Homo sapiens: one gene and its partners. The protein of the gene in region 2 purifies or fractionates together with the protein of the main gene of each other region. This does not show direct contact. Each region holds a gene or a part of one and is shown on either strand. Other genes may lie near its edges.

Region 1 (4,468 bases), on a different chromosome or scaffold from region 2:
CTCAGCACAACTGAAATATTACCCCAATTTATCAATCTTCCTTTGCTCATACCTGTGTTTACCAAGTAACTTCCTGTTTCCTAATTGTTTACCATAGGCAGACCTATCACTATGAATTAATACATTTATATTCTAACTGGGGAATCTCCAAGTCTCTCAAGTTTCATCAGTGGGAAATGGTTTCTCAAGCTGAGGGTCAGACCCTGGATCTATGTCCACCTATGTTACATCCTGGGAGACCCAGCTGGAACAGCCAGCCAAATGATCTCTCTCTTTTTGCTATCCACCCTCACCTTTCTCACCAACTTCTAACTGTAACACAGGTCACCACAATCTTGTATATGTCTGTATCCATCTGAAAAATAAAATCACATGTCATATATTGGTAAACAACCAAATGAAGATGGCTAAGACACTAGAATAACAGCAAGGTTATTAGGAAGAAAAATGGTCTTTATCAATAAATAAATCCACAACTGCTCTTTTAACTCCCCAAACAGATTACTGTTCTTACTAAAGCAGGTCCATGTCCCTCATATTCCACTTATAGAAGATATACATTATTTAAGGAGTCTAGTGGGGACCCAAATCCAGATGTTCTGGGCATCTGTTTGGTATGACTTTACTCAAAAGAAGGCACTAAAAAAACTGAACCTGAATCTGATCAATCTTATTTGTTTACAGGATATACAGGAGGCATAAAAACAAGTTAATGACTTCACAGTGATACAATCAACAAAATCCAGAATATGTGTGGAAACTTTAAAGACAAAACAACTAGATTTCTTAAATAATTTAAGGGGGAAAAGAAAAGGTAACTTATAAATTAAACAGACTTCAATAAATAACAACCAAATGCAATGTATGAACCTTGTGTGGTACCTATTTCAAGCAAACCAACAGTTAAAGAGAATTAACAGTCTAGACAGTTGATCATATTAAGAAACAGTTCAACTTTTTAGGTGTGATAATGGTATTGTGGGGTTTTTCTAATTTTTAAAGATACACACTAAAGTAGTTATGACGCCAGGCATGGTGACTCATGCCTATAATCCCAGCACTTTGGGAGGCTGATCACTTGAGGCCAGGAGTTCAAGACCAGCCTGGCCAACTATAAAATATATAAAAATTAGCTGGGCACGGTGGCTCATGCCTGTAATCCCAGCACTTTGGGAGGCAGAGGGGGACGGATCACTTGAGGCCAAGAGTTCAAGACCAGTCTGGCCAACATAGCGAAACCCCATCTCTACCAAAAATACAAAATTAGCCGGGCATGGTGGCACGTGCCTGTAATCCCAGCTACTCAGGAGGCTGAGGCACAAGAATCGCTTGAACCCGGGAGGTGGAGGTTACAGTGAGCCAAGATCGTACCACTGCACTCCAGCCTGGGCAACAGAGCAAGACCCTGTTTCAAAAAAAAAAAAAAAAGAATAAAGTAGTTATGGATGAAATGATAGGATGTCTGGGATTTGCTTCAAAATAATTGGGGGGTGGGGAGAAATAATTGAGGTATAGATGAAATAAGACTGACCATAAACTGAAACTGGGTGATGGATATGGAGAGGTCCATTATACTATTCTCCAGACTTCTTAATATGTTTAGAATTTTCCATTGAAGTTTTTTTTAAAAAAACAATCAACAAAACACACACACACACACACACACACATACACACACACACACACACACACACACGAGAATGAGCACTGCTGGGTCCCCTGGAGTAATAGAATAAAATTCCTAGTCTAGTTTCTAGCCCCATTTAACTAGACAGTTTCTCTAGAGGTCTACCATAAAATGGCAATCCATTGACCAAGTCCTGCTCTTCACTCTTATATCATTAGCCTAAGAAAGGACATTAGTTGTATGAGTTTGCTTACTTACCAGATACCTTTTAATGTCCAAGTTTGCTACCCAATTTTAACTTGAGTTTAAGAAAACTTAAAATAATTTCTGAAGCTAACAGAATTTTAGCATCTGGTGAATTTATTCAGCATAACCACAGGCATTATCTTCATGCTGTCACACACAGACACAAACACAGATACAGCACAATATCCATATTTAGCCCAAGTGCATTCCTTCTGAGGCTCATTTATATGTCTTCATATGCCACAGCCCATCATTTAAATAATGGATATTTTCAATGCCAATTCCTTTGTTGACTTTCTCACTGTAGAAGGAAAAAAAACACATAAACATACTTTTATGCATTTTTATAGTCTTACTCGTGATAAATATAATTCAAAGTATATTGTTATTTTTTAATTATTAAGCCACAAGTAAAGAACTTATTGACATCACAATTACATTGTTGTTTATATTAAACTACATTACTCTGTGGCAGCTCATATCTAAAAGTGATTTTAGTGATCTAACTAGTGGGTCTATAGAACCAGAGTAACAATGTCACAAGACTAGGGGAATATCAAAGTGCTACATTAACCCTGAAACAAAATTAATACCACTAATTTGGTCATCAAATGGGTTCTAAAATTTTTAAATATACTGCCTATGTTTTGATAATATATCTTTACTAGTTCTCTAAATATTCTACATTTCTTGTATTACCAGGTCAGGATATAAGATACTGTGTGGTGGTGAGATATATCACTGTTTTTAAAACTAGCAGTAATGACCAGGTGCAGTGGCTCACACCTGTAATCCCAACACTTTGGGAGGCCGAGGTGGGTGGATCACTTGAGGTCAGGAGTTCGAGACTGGCCTGGCCAACATGGTGAAACCCCATCTCTACTAAAAATACAAAAATTAGCTGGACATTATGGCGCACACCTGTAATCCCAACTACTTGGAAGGCTGAGGCACAAGAATCGCTTGAACCTGGGAGGCAGAGGTTGCAGTGAGGCGGGATCGCGCCACTGCACTCCAGCCTGGGCAACAGAGTGAGACTCCATCTCAAAAAAACTTAAAAAAATAAAAATAAAAATAAATAAAATGAAGCTAGCAGTAAAACATCTTCCCTCCTCCCCCAATTTAAATGATACTAAATAAGATTCCTAAAGTACCACGTACACACATATAAAACAGCTGTGTTGGCACATGGGTTCTTTTCAGTGCTTAAGAAAGACTACAATCCTGAAGACAAAATAGGTTTCATTGGCTTCCTAAGTGTTAGGAAATATCAGAAATGAAGCTTCTGTGCTTGGATATTTGTGTAATGTGGTATGCATGATAGCAAATTTCACCTGTAATTCTGATGCTTCCTGGGTTGGTTACCCATATATCAAAAGTTAAGGGGGCCTAAAGTAAGACTTACATGTCTTCTGCAGACATCTTCATGACTCCAACACATAGAGCATGCTGTTTTCCTTCTGCCATGATAGCCTGAAAGAACACAGCTAAGAAAACTATTTATCAAAATGCCTTGGGGCCTCCCCATCAAGGGAAGGGTGTCAAATAATGATCATGTTACTAGTTAAGCCACTTGGAACCCCTCTTGTGTCTTCTCCTAGACCATTAACTCCTTGAGAGCAGAGACCTAGCAGAGTCTGTGGGTACACTGTAAATACTCAGTAAATGCTAAATGAATAAATCTAATAACCCCTTTTCTTTCAAGTCAAATGTTAATACTATAACCCCATGCTAACAAAACCAGAATAAGTCACACAAAAAAGGAGTAAAATTTCTTGCACATAAATACTAAAAACTGTGAAATCAATAAATATTAATTGTTCTGATTAATTATTCTGATCACTGACTAGTGGGGATTTTTGTTTGTTCTTGAGACAGAGTCTCACTCTGTTGCCCAGGCTGGAGTGCAATGGCGCAGTCTTGGCTCATTGCAACCTCTGCCTCCCGGGTTCAAGCAATTCTCCTGCCTCAGCCTCCCGAGTAGCTGGTGCTACAGGCGTGTGCCACCACACCCAGCTAATTTTTGTATTTTTAGTAGAGATGGGATTTCACCATGTTGGCCAGGCTGGTCTTGAACTCCTGACCTCATGATCCGCCTGCCTCAGCCTCCCAAAGTGGTGGCATTATAGGCGTGAGCCACCATAGCCGGCCGTTTGTTTTTTTGAGATGGAGTCTTGCTTTGTCACCCGGCTGGAGTGCAGTGGCATGATCTCAGCTCACTGCAACTTCTGCCTCCTGAGTTCAAGCAATTCTCCTGCCTCAACCTCCCTAGTAGATGGGATTACAGGCGCATGCCACCCCACCCAGCTAATTTTTGTATTTTTAGTACAGACAGGGTTTCGTCATGTTGGCCAGGCTTGTCTCGAACTCCTGACCTCAGGTGATCTGCCCGCCTCAGCCTCCTAAAGTGCTGGGATTACAGGCATGAGCCACCACACCCGGCCTGAATGGTGGTTTTATGTAAAGGCTGTTTTAAAATAATAGGTAAATTCCCAGTCTATCTTTAAGAGCCTGATATAACAGTTTCAACCTTTCTAGAAAAACCAGAGTGGTCTTGGTTAACATATGAAGTTTCTGGAATGTTAAACACTGCAG
Region 2 (4,468 bases):
CACTGGAAGGAAGACAATGTGTGATCTATAGGAGCCCCCACCATGCCCATACACATAAAGGAGTATGTACATAATGTTTGCCAGCCATTCTCATCTCTGGCTGGTATTATATTTACTTGCGCAATTTTAAAATATATATGCTCTGGGTCCTATCCCAAAAAATTACAAATCAGAACCCCCAAGACCCTAGGAAGTCTTTTTTTTTTTTTTTAGATAGGGTCTTGCTCTGTCTCCCAGGCTGGAGTGTAGTGGTGTGATCTCGGCTCACTGCAACCTCAGTCTCCTGGGTTCAAGTGATTCTTGTGCGTCTGCCACCCGAGTAGCTGGGATTACAGGTGTGGGTCACCACGTCTGGCTAACTTTTGTATTTTTAGTAGAGATGGGGTTTCACCATGTTGGCTAGGCTAGTCTTGAACTCCTGACCTCTTGTGATATACCTGCCTCGGCCTCCCAAAGTGCTGGGATTACAGGCATGAGCCACAGCACCCAGCCTGAAAAAGCCTGGCCAACACAGTGACTCCAGAGGGAGCCTCCAGCTCAAAAAAAAAAAAAAAAAAAGTTTCTAAAAAGCTACTTGTGAGATTCTGATGTCTATCAGGTTTGAAACCATTGATTTCCTTCTTTTTTTTTTTTTTTTTTTTTTGAGACAGTCTCACTCTGTCACCCAGGCTGGAGTGCAGTGGCAGAATCTCAGCTCACTGTAACCTCTGCCTCCTGGGTTCAAGTGATTCTTGTGGCTCAGCCTCCCGAGTAGCTGGGATTACAGGTGCCTGCCACCACACCCAGCTAATTTTTTTGTATTTTTAGTAAAGATGGGGTTTCACCATGTTGGCCAGGATGGTCTCGAACTCCTGACTTCAAGTGATCCACCCACCTCGGCCTCCCAAAGTGCTGGGATTACAGGCGTGAGCCACCACGCCTGGCTGAAACCAATGATTTTCATACCATAAAATCATCATGTCTGAAACAAATCTGCCTTCTGTCCTGAACAATACTTTGAAAGCTATTAGAGTTACTAATAATTCAACAAGATGTGGACTCTTCTAGTAACTGGTTGAGTTTAAAGGAGCAAATAACTGTTAAGATGTTCTAAAGCATTTAATTAAAAAAAAATTAACCCACTAAACCCTAAGAAAATGCATGCCATTTTTCTTAATGTTTTTAAATTAAGAATAATAAAGTCACTAAACATTTTTCATTATTTGCAATACTCATTTCTCAAAAGGTCAGTAGTCCTCAAAAACTGATTCTCTAATTCCGAAGTTAGAGCCATGGGACTTCATAACAGGTGTCACAGAGTATATATTTTACATCAGGAAACCTATTTAATCTCTCTAAGAGCTAAATCTATTTCACATCCAATTCGAACAAGCCTAGATAGTATATTTACTCATCACATAGCATTTTAGAGGCTGCCTACAGTAAGAAAGAAGCAGTTATTGTCCCTTATTTATATCATATGAAAGAAACTGCAGGGGAAAAAATGAAAAAAAAAAAAAAGATAAAACTAAAAAAGTAAATACAAGAAAGGTGTTTAGGGGAATTTATATAGGGACAAACAACTTTACATAAGAATACTCGTGAGAGTAACTCTATACCTAACATAATACATCATATCTATCATAATAACACAATCATTAATAACATGTTGAAATCAAATAAGAACAACCATTATAAGTGGTTAAAATGAAAGGTTTCGATACCTAAAAATAAGTTTCAGTTACTTACGTAAATAGCCCTATTACCTGATTATGCAAAATAAATCATATTTCTTTTTAAGTACAAAACCAAAGCTGTCCAGGCATTGATAACAATTTAATTTACTGAGAAGCCCTACCCCGGGAGAGCAGAGAGATTCAATCCTTTTCTTTTTAAGTGTACAGTCATCCCTTGGTATCCATGGGGGATTGGTTCTAGGACCCCAGAGGATATCAAAATCTGAGGATGCTCAAGTCCTTTATATAAAATGGCGTAGTATTTGCAGATAACCTCCACATATCTTCCCATATATTTTAAGTCATCTCTAGATTATTTATAACACCTAACATAATGTAAATGCTATATAAATTGTTATACTGTATTTTTACATTTGTATTTAATTTTCTTTTCCAAATATTGCGATAGGTGGTTGGTTGAAAATACTGCATTAACCTTGAGGATGTGGAACTTGCTGATACAGAGGGCTGACTGTATAGGGAATGTAAAACATATAATGTGCATGTGTGTATATATAGTTTTTATATACATTTGTATATATATAAAAGTTGTAACTAAGTTATAACATTTATACTACATTGTGAATTTTGTTTTCTACTACTACATTGTGAATTTTGTTTTCTACTTAAATTTTGTTTAAAAGGTTTTGTTCTGTTATAAATTACATTAAACTTTGTCTAAGAAAGCAGTATTTGAGATAGGGTCTAAGAGAAGAGAGTTACTAAAGACACTTCTGGAGAAGTCTTTTTTGAGGGAGATGAGGGAGAAGAAAGGAAAAGAACTGAAAAAAGTAAAATTATATTAACTTGGTCACAGTGGATTAAAGTTTCTGTGTAATCCCTTTGGACTAGCAGAAAGCAGACAGAATATGATGTAACCCAGCCTGTTTACAGGTGAGAAAATAGAAATGATGGGTCTTAGCAACATTTATAGCAAAACCTAAACAGTTACTCAGCTCTCAGGTCTGGAGATAAGCTGTGAATGACATTGAAGAAAAGTTTCTAATATTTTTATAAGAAAGAATAGTAAAAGTGATTATAATAAAAATCAGAATCTCTGGCGATGCATGTTAATGGTAGAAAAAAAAATAAGAAAAAACCCCCATAGATTCGTAAGTGCTAAAATCACCAATTTTAAAGAGCAATGAATTGGCCAGGCGTGGTGGCTCACACCTATAACCCTAGCACTTTGGGAGGCCGAGGCAGGTGGATCTTGAAGTCAGGAGTTCAAGACCAGCCTGGCCAACACGGTGAGACCCCTTTACAAATAATTATTTGTAAACATACAAAAATTAGCCAGGCGTCGTGGCTTAATGCCTATAATCCTAGCTACTTGGGAGGCTGAGACAGGAGAATCCCTTGAATCCGGGAGGTGGAGGCTGCAGTGAGCCAAGATTGCATCACTGCATTCCAGCCTGGACGACAGTGCAAGACTCCATCTTGGGGGGCAAAAAACAAGCAATGAATAAAAAAGTAATAGGAAGTACAGACGGTGGCCCACGCCTGTAATCCCAGCACTTTGGGAGGCAGAGGAGGGCAGATGACTTGAGGTCAGGAGTTTGGGACCAGCCTGGCCAACATGGTGAAACCCCATCTCTACTAAAAAATAAAATTACAAAAATTAGCCAGGTATGGTGGTGCATGCCTGTAATCCCAGCTACTCAGGAGGCTGAGGCAGGAGAATCGCTTGAACCTGGGAGGTGGAGACTGCAGTGAGCCAAGATTGTGCCACTGCACTCCAGCCTGGACAACAGAACGAGACTCCGTTAAAAAAAAAAAAAATACAATGAGAATGGGTCAAGTTCTGGTAAGTGAATCTTTCCAAGGAATACTTCCTGACAGAACTAATTTTGGTTCACCTCAGTTAAATAAAAAGGGGGAAAAAGTACTTTTACTAGTCTTATTTTTCCATTTATATCCTAATGAGTAATATTCAGTGCGTTGCCTCTTAAATTCCTTGGTAAGAAAAATAAACACTATTTATTAAATGAATGAACTGCAAGCTGATATTAAGCACAAGCCCAAGTATTAATAAACCTTTAAGATCAGAAGTAAAAATGTGTTTGGGTTTTAAAAGGCATTGTATATTAAGACAGTCAAAGATACTACCTAGAAGAATTTGAAAGATTTGACATGCAGCAATACAAGGCTAACTGGAAGTTAATCACATGCTAAGCAGCAGAGCTTACCAAGACTATTCCATGTTACTAGTGTCCCTCAAGTAACCAGTAGTGACAGAAGACAGCTACACATATTTCCTTTAATAGGAGGGAGCTAAAGGTAGTTCCTGATTCACAGAACATCAAGTCAGTTATGGTAGCAAGAAAAGGGTAAACTCAAATACCATGGCTCTTGGTACAAAGATAGGATCCTTTGATTACACCAATAGTCTCCTCATGCTTAGTCTCACATTTCTTATTTTGTCAATAATTTTCATGATGGTCTGGAAGCATGCATTACAGACTACCTGTAGGGGAACCGAAGGAAGCCCAAGACTCTTCCACCCTGGGATTGTGATCAACTCTTCTCTGCAATATCTGCGTGAACCCTGGCCCAAAAAATCTAAGAGGTCCTGAGGAGACAGTAGGACAGTTGGCTGTCAATGTTCTACAGAGGCTGAGAATTATAACTAAGTTTTTGGAAGTCCATTTAAATTATATTTGGTCTAAGAGTCTGAGATCAGGTGCCTCTGAGCTCAAGTAGTGAGCACAGGGGTGGTTTACATTAGATGCCCAGGTACCTTCCTTATGCAA
Region 3 (4,468 bases), on a different chromosome or scaffold from region 2:
ATCAGTTAGTACCTATTGAGCATCTCCTTTTACAACCTAAGCATTGTATTAGGTGCTTAAATACAAGCAGCTTGACTTTTAATACATTTAAAAATACATATTTAAGACTTAAAATCTTATTTATGGAATTCAGTTATATTTTGAGGTTTCCAGTGCTGAGAAATTTGAGGTTTGTGCTGTCTTTCAGTCCCCAAAGCTCAGTTCTGAGTTCTCAGACTTTGGTGGAACTTCATGTATTGTCAGGTTGGCCCGTAATACCTGTGGGACAACTTCAGCCCCTGTGCACATGGCCAGGAGGCTGGTTGCAAACATTTTCAGGTAGGTGGACCAGGACATGCCCCTGGTCATGGCCAGGTGGAGGCATAGTGCTATACAGCAGGCAGAAGTCAATATTGATTTGTTTTTAAAGAAACATGTACTACTTTCATAAGCAGAAAAAATTTCTATTCTTGGGGGAAAAGATTATGCCAGATCCTCTAGGATTAAATGCTGATGCATCTGCTAAACCTTCACATATCAGAACATATTTACTATAGAAAGAATGAAAATGGGACATTTGTGTGTCACCTATGTGAACATTCCAAAAATATTTTACAACAACTAAGTATTTTATAAATTTTATGAACTGAAATTTAGTTCAAGTTCTAGGAAAATACAAACCTTGCTAGATATTATAAAAATGATACAATATATATTCATTTCAGGCTCATCAGAATATATCTGTTATCACTTGACAAGAATGAAAATGCACCATTTTGTAGTGCTTTAAAATCAGGAAGATCCAGAGTACTAAAAATGACTTCTTCCTTGAAGCTTACTCACCAACTTCCTCCCAGTTACTCACTGCTTCTGCCACAAGCATAAACTAGGACCCAGCCAGAACTCCTTGAAATATACACTTGCAACGATTACTGCATCTATCAAAATGGTTCAGTGCCTGGCTACAGGTTCTGCAGATCGACTAAGAATTTGAAAAGTCTTGTTTATTTCAAAGGAAGCCCATGTGAATTCTGCCCAGAGTTCATCCCAGATATGCAGTCTAAGAATACAGACAGATCAGCAGAGATGTATTCTAAAACAGGAATTCTGGCAATATAACAAATTGATTTCCAATCAAAACAGATTTACATACCATACTTATGTCAAGAAGTTGTTTTGTTTTATTGCATCCTAGATTTTATTTTTTTGATTTATGGTTTACTTTAAGCATAAAAAATTTGTCAATACAACTCTTCCCAAAAGGCATAAACAAAAATTCATAAAACTTGCATCACTTGAGATACTTCAGGTATGAATTCACAACTTTGTTACAACTTACTATATATATGCACACATATATATATATTTGGGTATATTGGGGGGGTTCTAATTTAAGAAATGCATAATTGGCTATAGACAGACAGTTGTCAGAACTTGGCAATGGGTACGTGCAGGTTCATTATACCAAGTCTACTTGTAGTTGTTCAAAATGTATCATAATACAAGGCCGGGCGAGGTGGCTCACGCCTGTAATCCCAGCATTTTGGGAGGCTAAGGCAGGAGGATTGCTTGAGGTCAGGAGTTTGTGACCAGCCTGGGCAACAGAGCAAGACCCTGTCTCCAAAAAGAAAAAAAATAATTTTTTACAAAATAAAAACAAAATGTATCATCAGACGAAATTAAATAAGAGGCAATTCATTTAAATGACAACTTTTCCCAGCTTGACATTTAACAAAAAGTCTAAGTCCTCTTAATTCATATTTAATGATCAAATATCAAATACTAATTTTTTTTTTTTTTTTTTTTTTGAGACGGAGTCTCGCTCTGTCGCCCAGGCTGGAGTGCAGTGGCGCGATCCTGGCTCACTGCAAGCTCCGCCTCCCGGGTTCACGCCATTCTCCTGCCTCAGCCTCCCGAGTAGCTGGGATTACAGACATGCGCCACCACGCCCGGCTAATTTTGTATTTTTAGTAGAGATGGGGTTTCTCCATGTTGGTCAGGCTGGTCTTGAATTTCCCACCTCAGGTGATCTGCCTGCCTCAGCCTCACAAAGCAGTAGCTGGGACTACAGGCACCCACCACCACACTTGGTTAATTCTTTTGTATTTTTTTTGTAAAGACGGGATTTCACCATGTTAGCCAGGATGGTCTCGATCTCCTGATCTCATGATCCGCCCGCCTCAGCCTCCCAAAGTGCTGGGATTACAGGCGTGAGCCACCCCGCCCGGCCATCAAATACTAATTCTTAAATGGTAAGGACCCACTATTCAGAACCTGTATCCTTATCACTAATATGCAAATATTTATTGAATACTTACTATGTCATGCATACTAGAGAGAGTTAGATAAATTTGATACAGCTACCCTCACAGAACTTACAGTGTAATAGATGGCATGACATGTACATGAGTAACTGTGAACAGTGTTAAATTGCTATTTAAAAAAAAAGACGGCTGGGCGCTGTGGCTCATGCCTGTAATCCCAGCACTTTGGGAGGCCAAGGCAAGTTGATCGCTCGAGGTCAAGAGTTCGAGACCAGCCTGGCCAACGTGGTAAAACCCCGTCTCTACTAAAAATACAAAAAAAAAATTAGCCAGGCATGGTGGCACAGGCCTGTAATCCCAGCTACTAGGGAGGCTGAGACATGGAGAACTGCTTGAATCCAGGAGGCAGAGGTTACAGTGAGCCGAGATCATACCACTACACTCCAGCCTGAGTGACAGAGCGAGACTCCGTCTAAAAAAAAAAAAAAAAAAAAAGATACAGGTTAAGTGTTATGGTAGTTGAAGAGAGAACTCAAACTCTGTCTCAGAAGCCTCACTTGCATGTGGACCACTGATATGAAATAATATAAATAGGTATAATTCAATAAATAGGAACTTCAGTTTTAATCATCCCAAACACCAAAACTTCCTATCAAACAGGTCCAATAAACTCAATCTCTATAAGAGCTAGACAGAAATCTACTTGGTGGCCTATAATCTTATTAGCCCTTACTTGTCCCATCTGATATTAATTAACCCCATCTAATATGGATTAGTTAACAATCCAGTGGCTGCTTTGACAGGAACAGTTGGAGAGAGTTGGGGATTGCAACATATTCAATTATACAAAAATGCATTCAGCATCTACCTTGATTAAGGCAGTGTGCAACAGAATTTGCAGGAGAGTAAAAGAATGATTATAAATTTACAACCCTTAAAGAGCTTATAGCTGGGCGTGGTGGCTCATGCCTGTAAATCCCAGCACTTTGGGAGGCTGAGGCGGGTGGATCACCTGAGGCCAGAAGTTCAAGACCAGCCTAGCCAACATGGCGAAACCCTGTCTCTACAAAAAATACAAAAATTAGCCGGGTGTGGTGGCACGTGCCTGTAGTCCCAGTTACTTGGGAGGCCGAGGCAGGAGAATCGCTTGAACCTAGGAGGTGGAGGCTGCAGTGAGCCGAGATTGTGCCACTGCACTCCACTTCAGCCTGGGCGACAAGAGCAAGACTCCGTCACAAAAAAAAAAAAAAAAAAAAAGCTTAAAATCTAGTGGGAAAGGCATATATACATACAACTAACTGTATAGCATAATAAAGCTCATAATCTGTAACAAAATCTAATTCGACAAGCCCAGAAACTTGTGATTTACCAAAAACAGTTATATATACACAAAAAGTAAACCTAGAACCCAAAGTTACCCAGCACCAATGATTCTCTCCCTAAGCAGTATCAAGTTTAAAGCAGTGATTACATTCTACTGCCTAGATTGTAAACTGAGTAAAGGAGACCAGCACCTTTCTGCTACTGAACTAGCACAGCCGTGTAAACCAACAAGGCAATGGCAGTGCCCAACTTTCTGTATGAATATAAGTTACATCTGTTTTATTATTTGTGACTTGGTGTTGCATGTGGTTATTATCAACACCTTCTGAAAGAACAACTACCTGCTCAGGCTGCCATAACAAAATACCACAGACTGAGTGACTTAACAGAAACTTATTTCTCACAGTTTTGGAGGCTGGGAAGTCCAAAATTAAGGTACCTGCAAGGTAGGTTTCAATCTCAGGCCTCTTCTTTGGCTTGAAGGTCTTCTAACTGTGTGCTCACATGACCTCTTCTAACAAGCTCTCTGGTGTCTCTTTTTTTTTTTTTTTCTTTTTTGAGACAGAGTCTCACTCTGTCACCCAGGCTGGAGTACAGTGGCACAATCTGGGCTCACTGCAACCTCCAACTCCCGGGTTCAAGTGATTCTCATGCCTCACCCTCCCGAGTAGCTTGGATGACAGGAGCCCGCTACCACACCCAGCTAATTTTTGTATTTTTAGTAGAGATGGTGTTTCACTACATTGGCCAGGCTGGTCTCAAACTCCTGACCTCGTGATCCACCCACCTTGGCCTCCCAAAGTGCTGGGATTACAGGTGTGAGCCACTGCGCCCGTCCTGGTGTCTTTTCATATAAGGGCACTAATCCAATCAGACCTGGGCCCAACCCTCCCGACTTCTTC
Region 4 (3,545 bases), on a different chromosome or scaffold from region 2:
TATTAGAATGGATTGCTATTCCCAAAGCCTTTTAAAAAATGAATAAATTGGGAGTGGGAGACCTGGTTTCTGTGTCCACCCTGGGCCTTACCTTTTTCCTCACCTAAGTGAAAAGTTCAAATACACTGATTACCAAAGCTCCTGTCCAGCCTCAAATGTCTGGGACCAAGTCCCTGTTAAAGGTTGTGTTCATGTCTACACTATGTACATACCCGAAAACAGCCAGCTCCTCACACCACTTCTTCCCAACCTGCACCCTCTCCCCACAGACCTCTCCCCACGACTGAGGCCTGGGTGGTTCTCAGGGACCTTCTCTGATCAGCGGATCACTTTAGAATGCTCAGCCTGGAGTCTTGCCACCTTGCCACCTGCAGCCTTCAGAGCTGTTCCTGCAGCACCCTCATACCTGGGTCCTGGCTGGTCTGGAGGCAAGTGAATGCATCTGTTCTCTATTAGAGCCGTCCCTGCAACCTCTGGGAACAGGAAGACGGTCACAGACTCAACTAAGGACTCTCCAAGGTTTTAAAGCTGGGGTGGAGTGGGAGAAAAAAGGACCCTCCAGGAGTGGTTCTGAGTGGCTTTAAGCCACAGCTACTATAACCAAACGCCACATACAGAAAGCTAAGCTGACCTAGCCTGAGCCACCAACTCCCATTTGGGCAACTCTGGCCTGTCTAACACCAACCCCAAGCATGCCCAATCCCACCTGCCCAACCATTCCTGAACTCCCTGGAAGCCCTGCTCAGGTGACATGGCCTTCCTGAGGAAGGGGCTGAAGGCATCTTCACACCCACAGGAGAAGGCCAACCTGATGGCAACATCCATGCGACAGGCCCCGGGGGCTGCGGTGAGAGAGGAGAGAAGGGCTTGTTTGCTGAGTGTGGTGGGACTCCGCTGACAGGAGGGGTGTCCTGTGAAAATAGAAGTGGCTGTTTTGGAGGCCACTTTAGAGTCCTCCAGACTCTTCCCAGGTATCCTCCTCCAGGCTTGCTCAGAGCCCCCGCAGAGACAGAGGCCAGGACCTACATCAGGCTGAGGAAGGTCTGCCTTGGAAGCTCGGAGCTTGGAAACTCACCACGATGGTGCCAGGGGCTCAGCGGTTTTGCCCTGAGGAGAAGTGATCCCGGGCCAAAGCCTTTGTGGAAAAGGGAGAGGGCAGTCTGTGGGAAATGCTCAGGAAGAATGGGTTTTTCTAGAAAAGAGACTCTTCCACAAATCTACCTGTCCACCTCCCGGCAATGCCATGGCCCTCAAGTCTGGTAAATACTTTCTGAGAACCACACACCCATCCCCAGGCTCCCATTCATCCAGAGGCTGGCGCCTGGGCTTCCCTCAGGGAGGCACGCTCCTCACCCAGGAGCCCCTCCTTAATGCCCAAACCTCCCTTGTCCATGGCTGCCCACTTCCACCAAGGTTTGACATCACGCAGACAGCACATGATATGAATTGCAAATGAGGTTTATTATGAAGACCCCCAGACCACAGCACTTCCGAAAGCAGAGTGGACAAGAGGAGCTATATACACAGAAACACATTTCCCCCCAGCACTGCCAGGCTTAGAGATGAAATCCCTGGATGGGCCTGGGTCCTCAACAGAATACACATCTGGAAAATGGGCAATGCAAAGAGGCATGGTGGGGGCGGGAATGGGCATGGCTAGAAGCACAAACCTAGACAGCACAGATTCCGCCCCAGAACACAGAGGCGTCACTGGCTCTAACTAACTGGTTTGGAGAGAAGATCTTTCAAAAACTGTATGTGGACATTCTTTTCCCTCAAAGTGCCATCAGAGATAAATGACAAAAATTTAACTTGCTGCCAGTTAGAGGTACAGAGACAGGCTTCTACATTCTGGAGTGGGAGAGTCTGGGTTGGGAGAGTCGGTGGTGGTGGGGGCTCATCTTTATCTAAAAGAGAAGGTCACGCTGGAACCAAAAGCTTCACCTGAGCTACCCTTTACAGAGCTAGAACCCCCACCTCCAGAGCCATATCCTCCTCCAGAGCTGGAGCCTCCTCTAGAGCCACCTCCAGAGCTGTGTTTTCCACCTCCAGAGCCATATCCTCCTCCAGAGATGGACCCTCCCTTAGAGCCACCACCAGATCCGTATCTTCCTCCAGAACCACCGCCAGAGCCATATCCTCCTCCAGAGATAGAACCTCCTCCTCCACTACCGCCTCTGGAGCCAGACTGTCGGCCTCCAGAGCCATAACTGCTGCTTCCAGAGCTGTATCCTCCTCCGGAACTGGACCCTCTACCTCCAGAACCTCCAAAGGCAGCCTTGGATGCCACATTTGATGAAATGGTGCTGCTTGTCACAGCTGCAGAGAGAGGTGGTGTTACCACAGAGATTATGACTGCCTCTCCCTGCCTCCACCTGACACAACACCCCATGGAACAGGACCACACCCCATTACTTACACACAGTCACATTGCTGCTGAGGTCTCCAGACATCCTGTAAGGGAGAGAGAAAAAACAAGTTGTGGTGGAACACTTAGGTTCTGTATGCATGTTGTTTTACCACTTCCACCCGCAAATGTGCAGTTTAGCCTCTCTAAGCAGCCACCAGGGCTTACACACCCCACTTTCTTCTATGCTGCCAGGTCACACAATGACGACAGACCCCCTTCCATTTATGCACAACCTTGCATGTCAATCCCTCTCAATTTTTGCTCTGATAAAAAATGAACAGTTGCGTGGTTGATCCAAGGTCACTGAAAAGCAAATTCACTTCCTACTTTGCAACCCATTTGTGTATTTAAATCCATCTTGGAGAGTCTGTTATTCAGAATCCATGCCACATCAGAAATTATACAATGAGGCTGCCTGTGAACATTCAGTTCAGAAAGAACTGTGACTCTGTAGAGCCTCCCCATTCCTCTCTTCTTCCCACCCTCTTCAGCTTCAACTGAAAACTTTCCCACTTCCTCTTACAAGCTGGGCATAGGAGGCATTGCCTCTAGACAGGGACAGAGCAACCTCCTGAAGAAAGCCACTCCCTGTTTGTCATGCTGGCTTGCTGATGGCCTGGGGTAGCTTTTCCCCTTCCAATTGCTTCAGCCAGATTAAGTCACCCAAGATGCTGATAATACGGACAAAGGTCTCAGACTACAGAGGAAGCAAAGGGTGCCTCTTTGAAAGTTAGCAAATGGTTCCATTTGTCACTCCAGAAACCTGCAAAGAACTGGGGCTGGCACCTGCTCCGGTCAGCACGTCCCCACCAGTCAGCACATTCCGAGACATCATCTCCCCCATTCTGGGTCACCCGGTGGAGGGCACAGAAGCCACTCACCCTATGGACCTAGAGACCAAAGTTTCAGACTGTCTAGGACTAACCTGTTTTCCCATGATTTTGTTTTCTCTTTCAGAAAAGACCAGGATGTTTAACTTACTGCTTAGTTTAATTTAATGTGCCTTATGCATCATTTCATGTTGATAAATGTGTAACTCTCCAATCATGCTTTATGTCCTGAGTTTCTGCTTGGGGAACACAGAGAATGTCAGTTCTCAGTTGTCAGGAGGGCCTGCCCCATTCTCTGCTTTCCC
Region 5 (4,468 bases), on a different chromosome or scaffold from region 2:
TTTGATTATAAGTTGAACATTTTAAACTAATGATTTATGTCTTTTACTAAGTTTTGAGACAAAACTTTTTGTATACTTCTTTTTTTGTACTAAGTTTGGACTGTAAAGATAAACTTTATTATACAATAGAAACTGAAGAAAAATTATGTTTTTAAGGAGCAGAATTGTAAGGTAGTTTGATTATGGGTTTAGTTCGCTATATGAGAGCATACTGTTAAATGTAGACCATTGAACTCTACAGCAGTGTTTTGAAGACTGCAGGTTGTGACCCATTAGTGGACATTGCACTTAATATTTTGAGGGAGATTAAATTTTCTTTCAGGTATTGTGTACTAGGTGGGGAAGTAATTTTTTTTAAGGATTGTGGTCAAAATGTACAGTATGGATGAGTCAAATCTAAGGTCTTCGAACCTTATGTTAGGGGTTGGAGGTCTTGGTGTGAGGAAGGAAGACTTTAAAATTAAAGACTGTTAAGTCCGTGTGGCTTTTTCTTACTTTGGATTCATTTATCCTGTACTCCATGTAGCTCGCATGGTTAGAGAGATCTGAGGCCTACTCCTATTTGAGAGGATGTTATCCCCCATAGCCAGAAACCAGGGTGGCTTCCAAAAGAAAAGGGTAGCATTCGGTGACTCTGCTTTAGGCCTTGAGGATGAATCTTTTCTTTGTTTTTGTCTTCCTGTGTCCTTTTGCATCATCAGAGATCTGGAGACTAAGCTTTGAGCATGGGCTTGGGGAAGAGGGGCCAAAGAGGCAGCTTGGCTGGCATTAAGTGTTGAAGGCCGTAGACCAGACACACACTAAATCCTTGTGACTTACACTTGGTGCAGTCCAGCTATCCAGATGTAGGGATTACACATTGGGGTTTGAGTTCAAAATCTTAATAATGATTTAGAACATGGGCTTTGATGTTAGATATGGATGCAAATCTTGGCTTTGCTACTCAATAGATACACCAGTCAGAGTAGGTTAGATTGTAATTTTAAAAACTACAGTTAGGCGTTGTTAACAATACGGTACATTGAGAAATCATAGAGTATTTTACCTACACAAACCTAGATGGTAGAGCCTACTATACACCTGGGCTATATCCTATTGCTTCTAGGCTATGAGCTTGTATAGCTTGTTATTGTACTGACTACTGTAAACAATTATGACAAATGGTAAGCGTGTTTCTTTTTTTGTTTTTTTTTTTTTTTTTTGAGACGTAATTTCGCTCTTGCTGCCCATGCTGGAGTGCAATGGTGCAATCTTGGCTCACCGCAACCTCTGTCTGCCTCCTGGGTTCAAGCAGTTCTCCTGTCTCAGCCTCGCGAGTAGCTGGGATTACAGGTGCTTGCCTGCCTCAGCCTCCCAAGTAGCTGGGGTTACAGGCACTCGCCACCACGCCCAGCTAATTTTTGTATTTTTAGTAGAGACGGGGTTTCACCATGTTGGCCAGGCTGGTCTGGAACTCCTGACCTCAAGTGATCCTCCTGCCTCGGCCTCCCAAAGTGCTGGGATTATAGATGTGAGCCATCACGCCCGGCCAAGTGTTTGTGCTTCTAAGCATAGAAAAGATGATGTGCTGTACTATGAACTTGTGACTGCTATGACATCACAGGTGATATGAATTTTTTTAGCTCCATAGTAATCTTATGGGACTACTGTCATAAATGTCCATTGTTGACCAAACGTTGGACATACTGCATGACTATACTGCAAATAAAAAAAGTGGAAATGGAATAAGAAAGATAAACTATAAGCCCCAATTTTTTATTATTAGTTTCAATAGACATAAAATTATTCTGCTATTAAATTTTCCATTTTTGTGCTCTCAATTTGTGTTTCTCTGACATAAACTGATAATTCACAGACTGGCTCATTGGTCCACAGACCACACTTTGCATAGCACTAGGTTAAACTATGCTGCAGCAACAGACTGTCATGCTAAAGTTTATGTACAGTATTATGTTTTAGGCCAGTGTTAACTTTAAAAATACTATACTTTGAAAGCTGAGAATTAAGTATCCCCTGTGATTGGGGGGATAGCCTGAAGCTGCTCCTGCTTACGTTATTTTGAAGTTTTCTAAGTCTTAAGTATTCATGTGTCATTTGCATTTTATTCAATGTTTGTTTGCTTTATGTGAAATATAAAGATGATATTCTTCCTCCTTCCCCACTGATCTGGAAGTAAAAATGGACTTTCCTGAAGTTGTAACATCTTAATTCTGTTGTTTTGTTTAACTCTGGGACACAACTGACTACTTCTGGTAGCTTTATTGGAGGTGAGGCTCCAGGTCAGAGTTTCTCATTTGAGGTTTTGTAATTATTTGAGGGAGGGGAGGGCTGTCTTGAGCATTGTACAGTATTTACCAGCATCCCTGCTGTCATCGTGCTAAGATGCCAGCAGCACATGCTCTCTCTGGTTGTGAAATGAAAAAAATGTCTACAGACATTGCCAAATGTCACGTGGGGGAGCAGAATCATCCTTGGTTGAGAACCACTGCACTAGGTGATGGAGAGCCATTGAAGGATTGTGGGAGACGGGGAAGAAGGAACAAGCTTCCTTAACTGTCTTACTTTTTACTTCTTCCTGGAACTCCTACCACTTAATATTCTTAGTATTTCCTAAACTTGGGAATCAAAATTACCTAGATTTTTTTGTATTAAAAGTTTATCATTAATTGATATATTTTTGCAAAGCATGATCAGTAATTACTGGACATAGAACATTATGCTAGGTCATTATTTTCTAAAGTATGGTTGAAGGGTCAACCATGGCTTGGAGTTAAAAATGCAGATTAACTGGTTCCCACTACAAGACCCATTGATTAGCAATCTCTGGGAGAGGGACCCAGGAGTCTACATTTCCAAATGCTTTCCGACTTATCAAGTAACTTCATTATTGTATGCTTTCATAGAAAAAAATACGTGGATTTTAAGTATTTAGTTCAATGAATTGCTGATGTGCATACACACATCTTGTAGCCTTTATTCTAATCAAGATAGAGAATACTTCCACCATCCCAGAGTTTCTTGTGCCCTGTTGGAGTTCTCCTTCTACTGCCCCAGGTAACCACTGATAAGATTTCTAATAGCCATGAATTAGTTTTTTTGTTTTTGTTAGTTGACTCATTTAAAGTGTTTTTTCTGGGTAACTTTCTAAAGTCTCCCCATCCCTATAACTTCTTTATTATATAAGATTTCAAATAAAATGAACGTCATGGTGTTTTTCAAAGAATACAGATTCTCATAGTGTTTCACACTTTGATAAATGATAGGCCTGGGATGGGGCCCTGAAAATCTTTGGCTCTGATTGACTGTTTTCAGGAAAATCAAAACTATTTTCCACCAGTTTTGCTGTGCTTTATAAAATATATTTGAAATATTCCTGCAGTGGTAATTTGAAACTTTTGTAAACTTTGTTCATTGATTTAACAAGTATTTGACTCCAGGAAGTATCAGACACTTTGACACCATAGCAATCAAGAAAGCTGTGGTCATGGATGTTATGATGTTTCTGTTTTCATTTCTGAAATTGCTTTTTTAAAACTTTTTTTTTTTTTTTGAAACGGAGTTTCGCTCTTGTTGCCCAGGCTGGAGTGCAATGGCACAGTCTCAGCCACCGCAGCCTCCGCCTCCCCGGTTCAAGTGATTCTCCTGCCTCAGCCTCCCGAGTAGCTGGGATTACAGGCATGTGCCACCATGCCCGGCTGAATTTTTTTTTTTTTTTTTTTTTTTTTTTTTAGATGGAGTCTCTCTGTGTCGCCCAGGCTGGAGTGCAGTGGCGCGATCTCGGCTCGCTGTAAGAAGGTCTGCCTCCCGGGTTCACACCATTCTCCTGCCTCAGCCTCCTGAATAGCTGGGACTACAGGCGCCCGCCACCGCGCCCGGCTAATTTTTGTATTTTTAGTAGAGACGGGGTTTCACTGTGTTAGCCAGGATGGTCTCAATCTGCTGACCTCATGATCCGCCCGTCTTGGCCTCCCAAAGTGCTGGGATTACAGGCGTGAGCCACTGTGCCCTGCCAATTTTTGTATTTTTAGTAGAGACAGGGTTTCTCCACATTGGTCAGGCTGGTCTCGAACTCTCGACCTCAGGTGATCCACCTGCCTTGGCCTCCCAAAGTGATGGGATTACAGGTGTGAGCCACCGCACCTGGTTGCTTTTTAAAAATTTTATTGGGAGGTTTTTTGTTGTTGTTTTGTTTTTTTGAGACGGAGTCTTGCTCTGTCACCCAGGCTAGTGGCATGATCGTGGCTCACTGCAACCTCTGCCTCCTGGGTTCAAGTGATTCTCCTTCCTCAGCCTCCTAAGTAGCTGGGATTACAGGCACATGCCACCACGCCTAGCTAATTTTTGTATTTTTAGTAGAGACGGGGTTTCACCATGTTGGTCAGGCTGGTCTCTCCTGACCTCGTGATCTGCCTGCCTTGGCTTCCTAAAGTGCTGGGATTACAGGTGCAAGCCACCGCACCCAGCCTGG
Region 6 (5,252 bases), on a different chromosome or scaffold from region 2:
AAGAGGGAGGGAAGGAAGGAGAGCAAAATCTTCGGAAGGTGTTTCTTGTACCTGAGGGATCCTGCCCTGAATCTCCATAGTCTCCACTGTGAACTGAGGAGGGGAGGGGTGTGCTGGGGAATAAATCTTGTATGAGAACAATCTTTAAGAGACTGATGCTGAATGGTGTCCTACCCTTGATAGGTCTTCTCTTGTAAATCTGAGTTCTGATTAATTTGAAGTGATAGCCTTAAAAGAGGAAGCCCAGGTATGAGGGACCCACCAGCCCACCCCTATTTTTACTTCGTGATGGCCAGAACATCACCATAGTATGAGGCTACTTTCCTTCTTGTGAGAGCCCCACCATCAGTATAACTGGCACTCTTGGCTAGTATTTAGCCTGTATTTCCTTCATTTCTAATTTCTTTTTTTTTCCTGAGACGGAGTCTTGGTCTGTCGCCCAGGCTGGAGTGCAGTGGTGCGATCTCTCACTGCAAGCTCCGCCTCCCGGGTTCACGCCATTCTCCTGCCTCAGCCTCCTGAGTAGCTTGGACTACAGGCGCCCACCAGCACGCCTGGCTAATTTTTTGTATTTTTAGTAGAGATGGGGTTTCACAGTGTTAGCCAGGATGGTCTCGATCTCCTGACCTCGTGATCCGCCCGCCCTGGCCTCCCAAAGTGCTGGGATTGCAGGCGTGAGCCACCGCGCTCGGCCCTTTCATTTCTAATTCTTAATATTGTCTCCTAAACGTGCAGAGACAAGCACACGTTTTAAAGGCTAAGGAGGTTGTAGGTAGCAGAAGGCTTTAAAAAGTAGCACCTTACTCCTTCACTGGATGGTCTGAGCTGCAGGGACAGCTGCTCTTTGGCCTTCAGCTCACCTCAGAAACTAGAAATATTTATTTCAGGCTCTGTCCCATTGGCCACTGTGGTCAGGGGTGGAAAGCACCTGCCAGGTGTTGCCCTGAGATTGTCTGGGCTAACAAACTTTTCCACAAGCTTTGTGGTTGAACAGTAGCCCCCTCCTAACCCTATCGTTCCTTGGCGTCCAAACTACAGTAGGTGTCGAGTGCCCCCTGGGTGCGAAGCTCGGTATTAGGCAAATAAGGGTGGTTGCTCTCCAAGGCGCTTAGCTGTCCCCCCTTCCCACTTTTTTTTTTTTTGTTCGAGACTGCGTCTCGCTCTGTCGCCAGGATGGGGTGCAGTGGCGCGCTCATAGTGGCTCACTGCAGCCTCGATGTCCGGGGCTCTGGTGACCCTCCCACCTCAGCCTCCAGAGTAGCTGGGACCACAGAAGCGCGCCACCACTCTTAATTTTTTGTACTTTATTTGCAGAGATGGGGTTTCATATTGCCCAGACTGGTTTCGAATTCCTGGGCTCAAACGATCCGCCCGCCTCAGCCTCCCAAAGTGATAGAATTGCAGGGGTGACATGCCACTGCGCCCGACCAAGGCGCTTAGCTTTCTATTAAGTTTTCACAACCACTTTCCTACCACTATCTACTGTTCCTATTTTACAAATGACAAAACTAACCGACAAAAGAGCACTGGACCGTGGGACCAGAGCACGTCCCTGTGGGGTAACCTTGAGCTGGTCGCTTGCCCAGGGCGGCAGCGGATGTCTGAAGCGTCTTCCAATCCCAACATTAGACTTAATTCAAGGTCACCAGTGCTCAGCTGCGGCTGGAACTGGGTCTCGAAACTTGAAGGCCTTCTCTGCTACAGCCTTCGTTCCCGGGAGCAGAAAGAGGAAGTTTCTTAGCCGTGGGCACGCCGGCGCCTTCGCAGAGGCCCATGGCTTGAGGTCCGGCCCGAATGCGCAAGTTCCGACCTGAAATGAACTATGGAGTCCGGGAGGGGTCGCTTTGCTCCTCCGGAAGGCTTCCCCTTCAGCCAATCACCGTTCGAGGCCCGCCCCCGTCGCCGGAAGGAGCCGTCGCCCCGAGCAACTACAACGTCCGGCTTTCTGAGTTGGGTGGCGGGAAAGGCGATGAGTAAAGGCCGGGCAGAAGCTGCGGCGGGAGGTAACGGCGCCGTGGGCGCGGGGAAGACCCGGGAGGGCAGTGGGTGAGGAGGTCGGTTGAGTGGCCCCCTCCCCTGCCTTTCTCTCCGTAGCCGCCGGGATCCTCCTGAGGTACCTGCAGGAGCAGAACCGGCCCTACAGCTCCCAGGATGTGTTCGGGAACCTACAGCGGGAACACGGACTGGGCAAGGCGGTGAGGACCTTCTCCCGGGATTCCCTCTCCGTCGGACTCCCTGGATTCAGGCTGGGGTCGTGCCCTTTGGAGCCTTGGGCGTTTTCCACATCACTGGCTGGATTTCCCCAGACCCAGGCTCAGACTCCTCTGATTGCTCCTTCTCTCTCCTCTGCCAGGTGGTGGTGAAGACGCTGGAGCAGCTGGCGCAACAAGGCAAGATCAAAGAGAAGATGTACGGCAAGCAGAAGATCTATTTTGCGGATCAGGTGAGGAGAACTTGCGCCGATTGTCACCCATGAGAGCCCGACAACGGGTGAATCTACTCCTGGTGTGAACTCTTTGGGGACAAGGCCCCCCATGGAAAACTCACCTGTCTTAGGCCACCATCCTTAAATCAAGGTGTGTACTCCTCTTGTTAGGATCCCAACTTCACGAGGTTTCCAGATTTACAATATGATGGATGACAGAAGATTCTGTATTGTTGCTACCAAGATCCATTTCCGCTCCAAAGCTCTTATTCCTTATCATCTACATTAGCAACACCCTCTGCCAAATGATGTTCCTCCTGCCTCCATCCGATTCTCTAAACACACATATCAAATTTATATTCTCCAGCCCAGACCTCCAGCTGGAATCTGTCAGGCATTAATATCAGAGTCAAAATTGCCACAGTAGAATGCCTCATCTTCCCCCCACCCCGGACTGGTTTCTTTCTAACATTCTCCTCCCCTAATGGAATTACTCTTCACCCAAACCAGAAATTGGGAGCAATTCTTGACTTCCTTTACTAGTCAACCATCAAGTCCAGCTGATTTTTCCGTTTTTATTTATTTTTTTAATTTTTATAGAGATGGGTCTTACTGTGCTGCCCAGGTTGGTCCCAACTCCTGGGCTCAAGTGATCCTCCTGTCTTGGCCTCCCAAAGTGCTGGGAGGACAGGCGTGAACCACAGAGCCTGGCTAATTTTTCCATTCTTGAATCCACTCTCCTTTCCATCTGCCATGGTTGCTCTAGTTCACGCCCTCTTTATTTGTTGCAGTATCCTCCTAACAGATCTTGGCTCTTCAAACATATCTTAAACTCTTAAACATTGCAGTCAGAATGATCTGTCTAAATAGATCTGGTCATGCACCTTCCCTATTTAAAACTCTTCAATGGCTCTCTAGTGCTGCAAAAAACATGTAAAAGGCACCGGAAGACGCCCCAGCCAGCCTCTGGCCTCACCAATCCTCATTATTTTTCTATCCACGAACACTAGATAATTCTGGTGTGTTTTACTGCTCTGTCCTTTGCATGTTGTCTTCCCTGTACCTGCTTCTCTTCCTGGCCAGCTCTTTCTTTCCTTGAGGATTTCACTTAGACATCACCTTTTCCAGAAATCTTCCTTGAATGCTCCGAGCTAATTGTTTCTTTTTCAGGCCCTTATCTCTTTTTGTTATTGTTGTTGTTGTTGTTGTTGAGACGGAGTCTCGCTCTGTCACCCAGGCTGGAGTGCAGTGGCACAATCTCGGCTCACTATAAGCTCCACCTCCTGGGTTCACGCCATTCCCCCGCCTCAGCCTCCCAGAGTAGCTGGGACTACAGGCACCCGCCACGAAGCCTAATTTTTTTTTTTTTTTTTTTTTGGTATTTTTAGTAGAGATGGGGTTTCATCGTGTTAGCCAGGATGGTCTTGATCTCCTGACCTCGTGATCCACCCGCCTCGGCCTCCCAAAGTGCTGGGATTACAGGCATGAGCCACTGTGCCCAGCCTGGCCCTTACCTCTTTTGAGGCATGCTGTATTACAATTTTTACTTGTCTCCTTTATTCAACTGAAGTTCCTCTAGGGCAGACCCCATTTCTCAATTCATTTTTATCTGATCAGCACCTCCGCAGTATCTAACATCCAGCAGATATTACTCGTTAAACTGAACCAAACCACTTTTAAGGCTGACTTTCCTAAAACAGGCTGCATTGTGTTACTCATCTAAAGATAATTCTCTAAAGGAGGGTTTGGCAAACTTTTTCTGCAAATGGCCAGACAGTATTTTTAGGATTTGTGGGCCATATGTATCTCTTGTCATGGCTGGCTGTACAACTGCCACAACTACTCACCTCTGCCACTGTAGAACAGAAGCAGCTGTAGACTATGTAAATGAACGGGTGGGGCTGTTTCAATAAAATTTTGTTTTCAAAAACATGCATCTGGCAGGATTTGGCTTGCTGGCCATAGTTTGCTGGCCTCTGCCCTATAGGTTCACCTTGCCCAAGTGTAGAGTCCAGACTGCACTGGCTGGCATACTTTTTCAACCTGCTCCCCATCACCAACTGATGTGACCTCCCCCACCCCCACACTGATCCCCAGTGCAGTTCTTTTCTAGCAATGGCCCCTCATGAGAGAAGCTCCTCAGACTTACTGGAATCCCTTATCTACATGGATCCCAAGACCCAGCATAGTGGCTCATGCATGTAATCCCAGCACTTTGGGAGGCTGAGGCGGATGGATCACTTGAGCCCAGGAGTTTGAGACCAGCCTGGGCAACGTGGTGAAACCCCTTCTCTACTAAAAATACAAAAATTAGCTGCGCTTGGTGGTGCGCGCCTGTAATCCCAGCTACTTAGGAGGCTGAGGCATGAGAATCGCTTGAAGCCAGGAGGCGGAGGTTGCAGTCAGCCAAGATTGCACCACTGCACTCTGGCCTGGGTGACAGAGAAAGAAAGAGAGGAAAAGAGGGAAGGGAGGGAGAAAGAGAGAGAAAGAGAGAGGGAAAGGGAGGGGGAAGGAGGGAGGGAGGGAGGAAAAAGGAAGGAAGGAAGGAGGGAGAGAGGAAGGTGGAAAGAAGGATGGGAAGAAAGGACAGGAAGGAAGAAGAAAAGAAGTCCATCCATCCCATCCATCATGCTTCTTCACCTGTCCAGTTTCTATCTATTATGGAAACCCATGATCTAGGTTTCCCCACCGTGGGAACAATGTTACTTAACTGCTTCAGCCCAGGTAGTGGTTTTATCACTAAATGGGAAGATTTCTGTCCTAATCAGTATCCTGTCAACCTAGTAGCTTAAGGACAAGCATTAGATTTCAGCTTTTCTTTCCT
Region 7 (4,468 bases), on a different chromosome or scaffold from region 2:
GCCAGCCCCTCTCATGGATCTTTCATTCAGTTCTGAGGACAGATATGGTCGGTAAACAGTTGCTGACCCCTTCTCTGAGCCAGGTCATGCTGGAGACACAAAGGTGACCCAGAGACAGGGGTGGCACAGACATGCATACAGATAAAGTAGTATTGTCTCCATTTTATGTGAGCAGATCTGCCACTTGTCTGTCTCCACGGTCACCACCCCAGTCTGGTCTCTCTCCTTGCAGGTCTCCCTGGATCTCTTGCTCCGCAGATCCACACAGCAGCCAATGGGGTCTTTTCAAAAGACAAATCTGGTCTCTGAATGCTGGCCCCTGAAAACTGTAGGTTCCCCACTTCACTGGGACTGAAGTCCCAACTCATCTTATGCCTCTATTTGAGTCACCCTGGTGCACTCTTGGTTCCTCTAGCAGGGATATACTAGGTTCTTTCCTGTTTCCAGGTTTTTTTCAGCACCTACTGTGTGCCAGGTACTGTATTAGGTGCTTGAGAGGAGCCTTCCAGGCCGAGAACTGCTTGGGTTAAAGCCCTGAGGTGGAAATGAGTGGAGCTTGCCTGAAGTCAGTCAGGAAGCCTGTGTGTTGAACAGCTAGTGAGTGGGGAAAGTGGAGAGATGGAGGAGGGGCAGGCAGTCATGCAGATAGGGCCCGAAGATTGAGGGAAGCCATTGGAGGGTTTGCTTGTTTAGTTTTGTTTACTTTAGTAGAATGATGGAGGTGATGTAACTTAAATTTTTAAGAGCCTCCCTCTTCTGGCTGCTGTGGGGAGAATGGCATGTTAGAGCATGGGACCAGTGAAGAGAGTGTGGCAGTGTCCAACTGAGAAGTGGCAGTGTATTTATTTCTTTATTGTTTTTTTTGGAGACAGAGTCTCCCTCTCACCCAGGTTGGAGTGCAGTGGTGCTATTTTAGCTCACTGCCACCTCCGCCTCCCAGGTTCAAGCAATTCTCCTGCCTCAGCCTCCTGAGTAGGTGGGATTATAAGTGCCCACCACCACGCCCAACTAATTTTTGTATTTTTAGTAGAGATGGGATTTCACCATGTTGGCCAGGCTGCTCTCGAACTTCTGACCTCGGGTGATCCGCCCACCTTGGCCTCCCAAAGTGCTGGGATTACAGGCTGTGAGCCACCGCGCCCAGCCTGAGAAGTGACAGTTTAGATGAAGGTGGTGAGATGCAGTTGGATTGCTTATATATTTCACTTGTTGAGCCAAAAACGTGCTGATTGAGGTGAAAGAGGAAAAGAGGAATCAAATCTTAAGTTTTTGGGCAGAGTAGCTGGTTGAATGGTGGTTTCATTTCCTAAAATGGGAAGATTGGGAGAGTAACCGGTAGTGGGGGCAAAGGAGCCATGAGGACTCCAACATGACACATAATAGATCCAACTGGACATCCAAGTGGAGGTGCTGTGGAGGCAGTTGGATCACATCGAGTCTCAAGTTCAGGGGAGTAGTTTGGGCTGGATATAAATACGTGGGAGTCATCCCCGTAGAGAAGGTATGTAAAGCCATAAGACTGGATGAGCTTAATTGGTAAACATAAGAGAACTGGGAGATGATGGAGCCCTGAGGGCCCCCAAACCCTAAAGTCTGTTAGCTAAAGAGGAACCAGGAAGGTAGGTGGAAAAGCACAGGACAGTCACAGAAGCCAAGTAAAGAAAGGGTTTCAGGAAGGAGGGCAAGTCATTCATGCAATCTGTGCTGCTGGTAGAAACATGGTCTTAGGTAATTTTGCATCAGGTATGGAGATCAGGCTGGTCTTTGGACGGAAGAGCAGTTTTAGTGGAGTATGGAAGTCCTTAAGGAGGAGAGGGGATATGGAATCAGGCCCCATGGAGCAGGGATAGTGTAGTGACCAGCCCCATAGGGTCGGTGGGTCTCTCCCTGTGTGCGGCGACGAGAGAGTGTAGAAATAAAGATACAAGACAAAGAGACAAGAGAAAAGGCAGCTGGGCCCGGGGGACCACTACCATCAATGCGCGGAGACCGGTAGTGGCCCCGAATGTTGGGCTGCGCTGTTATTTATTGCATATAAGGCAGAAGGGGCAGGGTAAAGAATGTGAGTCACCTCCAAGGATAGGTAAGGTCATGTGGGTCACGTGTCCACTGGACAGGGGGCCCTTCCCTGCCTGGCAGCCGAGGCAGGGAGGGAGAGGAGACAGAGAGAAAGACAGCTTACGCAATTATTTCTGCATATCAGGGACTATTAGTATTTTTACTAATTTACTACTGCTATCTAGAAGGCATAGCCAGGTGTACAGGATGGAACATGAAGGCAGACTAGGAGTGTGACCACTGAAGCACAGCATCACAGGGAGATGGTTAGGCCTCTGGATAACTGTGGGCGAGCCTGGCTGATGTCAGGCCCTCTACAAGAGGTGGAGGAGCAGAGTCTTTTCTAAACTCCCCTGGGGAAAGGGAGACACCCCCCCCCCTCCCGCCGCCGCCACTTCCCAGTCTGCTAAGTAGCGGGTGTTGTTCCTTGACACCTTTTGCTACCGCTGGACCACGATCCGCCTGGTAACGGGCGTCTTCCCAGACGCTGGCGTCACCGCTAGACCAAGGAGCCCTCTGGTGGCCCTGTCCGGGCATAACAGAAGGCTCGCACTCTTGTCTTCTGGTCACACCTCACTATGTCCCCTCAGCTCCTATCTCTGTATGGCCTGGTTTTTCCTAGGCTATGATTATAGAGCAAGGATTATCATAATATTGGAATAAAAAGTAATTGCTACAAACTAATGATTAATGATATTCATATATAATCATATATAAGATCTATATCTAGTATAACTATTCTTGTTTTATATTTTATTATACTGGAACAGCTCGTGTCCTCTGTCTCTTGCCTCGGTGCCTGGGTGGCTTGCCGCCCACAGGACAGCTCATCTATTTTATTTTATTTTTTTGAGACCGAGTCTCACTCTGTCACCCAGGCTGGAGTGCAGTGGCATGATCTCAGCTCATTGCAGCCTCTGCCTCCCAGGTTCAAGTGATTCTCCTGCCTCAGCCTCCTGAGTAGCTGGGATTACAGGCACCCACCACCACACCCGGCTAATTTTTGTATTTTTAGTAGAGACGGGGTTTCACCATGTTGGTCAGGCTGGTCTTGAACTCCTGACCTCAAGTGATCTGCCCACCTTGGCCTCCCAAAGTGTTGGGATTACAGGTGTGAGCCACCGCGCCCATTCAACTCATCTGTGGTAACAGGAAAGAGTGCCTGGTCTGAAGCTGTAGATGACTGCTATAGGTGACTAGTGGATTCCATAGGGGAAAAGTGGCCTGGTTCTGAATTCATCTCAGTGAATTGGGAAGTGAGATTGTCATTCAATGGGGAAAGGTGTTGGAGGGTTGAGGAGAGTAGAAAATGGGAGTAAATTTACTAGGAAAATGTCATAGGATTGCTGCAATGTGCTATGTGTCTTTTATGGTCTTAATAAATATGATATCTTGGCCAGGTGTGGTGGCTCACACCTGTAATCCCAGCACTTTGGGAGGCTGAAGCAGGTGGATCACGAGGCCAGGAGTTCAAGATCAGCCTGGCCAACATGGTGAAACCCCGTCTCCTCTAAAAATACAAAAATTAGCTGGGCATGGTGGCGAGTTCCTGTAATCCCAGCTATTGGGGAGGCTGAGGCAGGAGAATTGCTTGAACCGGGACCTGAGAGGTGGAGGTTGCAGTGGGCCGAGATCGCGCCACTGCACCCCAGCCTGGTCTACAGAGCCAGACTATGTCTCTAAAATAATTAATTAATTAATTAATTAAATATGATGTCTTGGTGGGGTTGTGATTGTCCTCCTGCTGGGTTCAGTGGGTCCGGTGCAGTGGAGGGTCGGGTTTAATTGGGCTGAGAGTTTTGCCAAGTGAGTTCTCAAAGGGAAAGGGGGTAGAAGGGACACTAGAAATTGGTAGGATGAATTGAATAGAGGTTCTCACCTGACAGGCCACAGCCTTGTTGGAGCTTGGCCTCTGGAAGGAGAAAACCAGAAAGATGAGGCGTGGCTAGAGTTGGGTGCTTGAAGTCCAGATTTCCAAGGAGAGCTATCACTGGTGATGGCCTACTAGGGTAGGAGGGCTGGGGTGGGTGGCTTGAGTTGAGGCACAGCCGGAGTGGTCTCTCATGCGGGAGGCGTGTTTCATCTCTGAAATTGTTAAAATGCACTGTAGGAAGCTGACTGACAGACAATTTTATTGATTATTAAATTCTTAGATTATTAAATTCTCTACAGAGTCCTTTGCCTCCCACCGCCTACCTCTTTGGGTGTTTGGCAGGATCTCAGCTTCCCTAAAGATAAAAATCACCAGGAGTCTTAGACCTGCTGAATCATATTTTCCAGGGGAGATTTACAAGCATGCCAGAGGAACATCCCTTACCGGGGAAGTCTGCAAACTTTGACCTAGGGACTGACCTAGGGTATGACCTTGGAAGTGGACCAGTGTGGTAGGGGAGAGTATTGAGATAGTGAG

What was found.
Region 1: the proteins of ASXL2 (region 2) and MCTS1 purify together in Homo sapiens (affinity purification with mass spectrometry, with the first as the bait; one study listed by BioGRID). This does not show direct contact.
Region 3: the proteins of ASXL2 (region 2) and HPRT1 purify together in Homo sapiens (affinity purification with mass spectrometry, with the first as the bait; one study listed by BioGRID). This does not show direct contact.
Region 4: the proteins of ASXL2 (region 2) and KRT2 purify together in Homo sapiens (affinity purification with mass spectrometry, with the first as the bait; one study listed by BioGRID). This does not show direct contact.
Region 5: the proteins of ASXL2 (region 2) and SEPTIN7 purify together in Homo sapiens (affinity purification with mass spectrometry, with the first as the bait; one study listed by BioGRID). This does not show direct contact.
Region 6: the proteins of ASXL2 (region 2) and PSMC3IP purify together in Homo sapiens (affinity purification with mass spectrometry, with the first as the bait; one study listed by BioGRID). This does not show direct contact.
Region 7: the proteins of ASXL2 (region 2) and AHCY purify together in Homo sapiens (affinity purification with mass spectrometry, with the first as the bait; one study listed by BioGRID). This does not show direct contact.

The regions. Positions count from the first base shown.
Region 1 is NC_000023.11:120,609,889-120,614,356, reverse strand, and holds part of MCTS1 (malignant T-cell-amplified sequence 1), read right to left. Parts: intron 3,347-4,468; coding exon 3,279-3,346; intron 2,175-3,278; coding exon 2,093-2,174; 3' UTR 1-2,092. UniProt on the Homo sapiens protein: Translation regulator forming a complex with DENR to promote translation reinitiation.
Region 2 is NC_000002.12:25,745,021-25,749,488, forward strand, and holds part of ASXL2 (putative Polycomb group protein ASXL2), read right to left. Parts: intron 1-4,468.
Region 3 is NC_000023.11:134,466,074-134,470,541, reverse strand, and holds part of HPRT1 (hypoxanthine-guanine phosphoribosyltransferase), read right to left. Parts: intron 1-4,468. UniProt on the Homo sapiens protein: Converts guanine to guanosine monophosphate, and hypoxanthine to inosine monophosphate. Transfers the 5-phosphoribosyl group from 5-phosphoribosylpyrophosphate onto the purine.
Region 4 is NC_000012.12:52,643,116-52,646,660, forward strand, and holds the end of KRT2 (keratin, type II cytoskeletal 2 epidermal), read right to left. Parts: intron 2,455-3,545; coding exon 2,420-2,454; intron 2,320-2,419; coding exon 1,904-2,319; 3' UTR 1,443-1,903; downstream 1-1,442.
Region 5 is NC_000007.14:35,803,652-35,808,119, forward strand, and holds part of SEPTIN7 (septin-7), read left to right. Parts: intron 1-4,468.
Region 6 is NC_000017.11:42,574,404-42,579,655, reverse strand, and holds the start of PSMC3IP (homologous-pairing protein 2 homolog), read left to right. Parts: upstream 1-1,926; 5' UTR 1,927-1,969; coding exon 1,970-2,003; exon of another isoform or gene 2,004-2,094; coding exon 2,095-2,195; intron 2,196-2,353; coding exon 2,354-2,443; exon of another isoform or gene 2,444-2,576; intron 2,577-5,252. UniProt on the Homo sapiens protein: Plays an important role in meiotic recombination. Stimulates DMC1-mediated strand exchange required for pairing homologous chromosomes during meiosis.
Region 7 is NC_000020.11:34,296,580-34,301,047, reverse strand, and holds part of AHCY (adenosylhomocysteinase), read left to right. Parts: intron 1-4,468. UniProt on the Homo sapiens protein: Catalyzes the hydrolysis of S-adenosyl-L-homocysteine to form adenosine and homocysteine. Binds copper ions.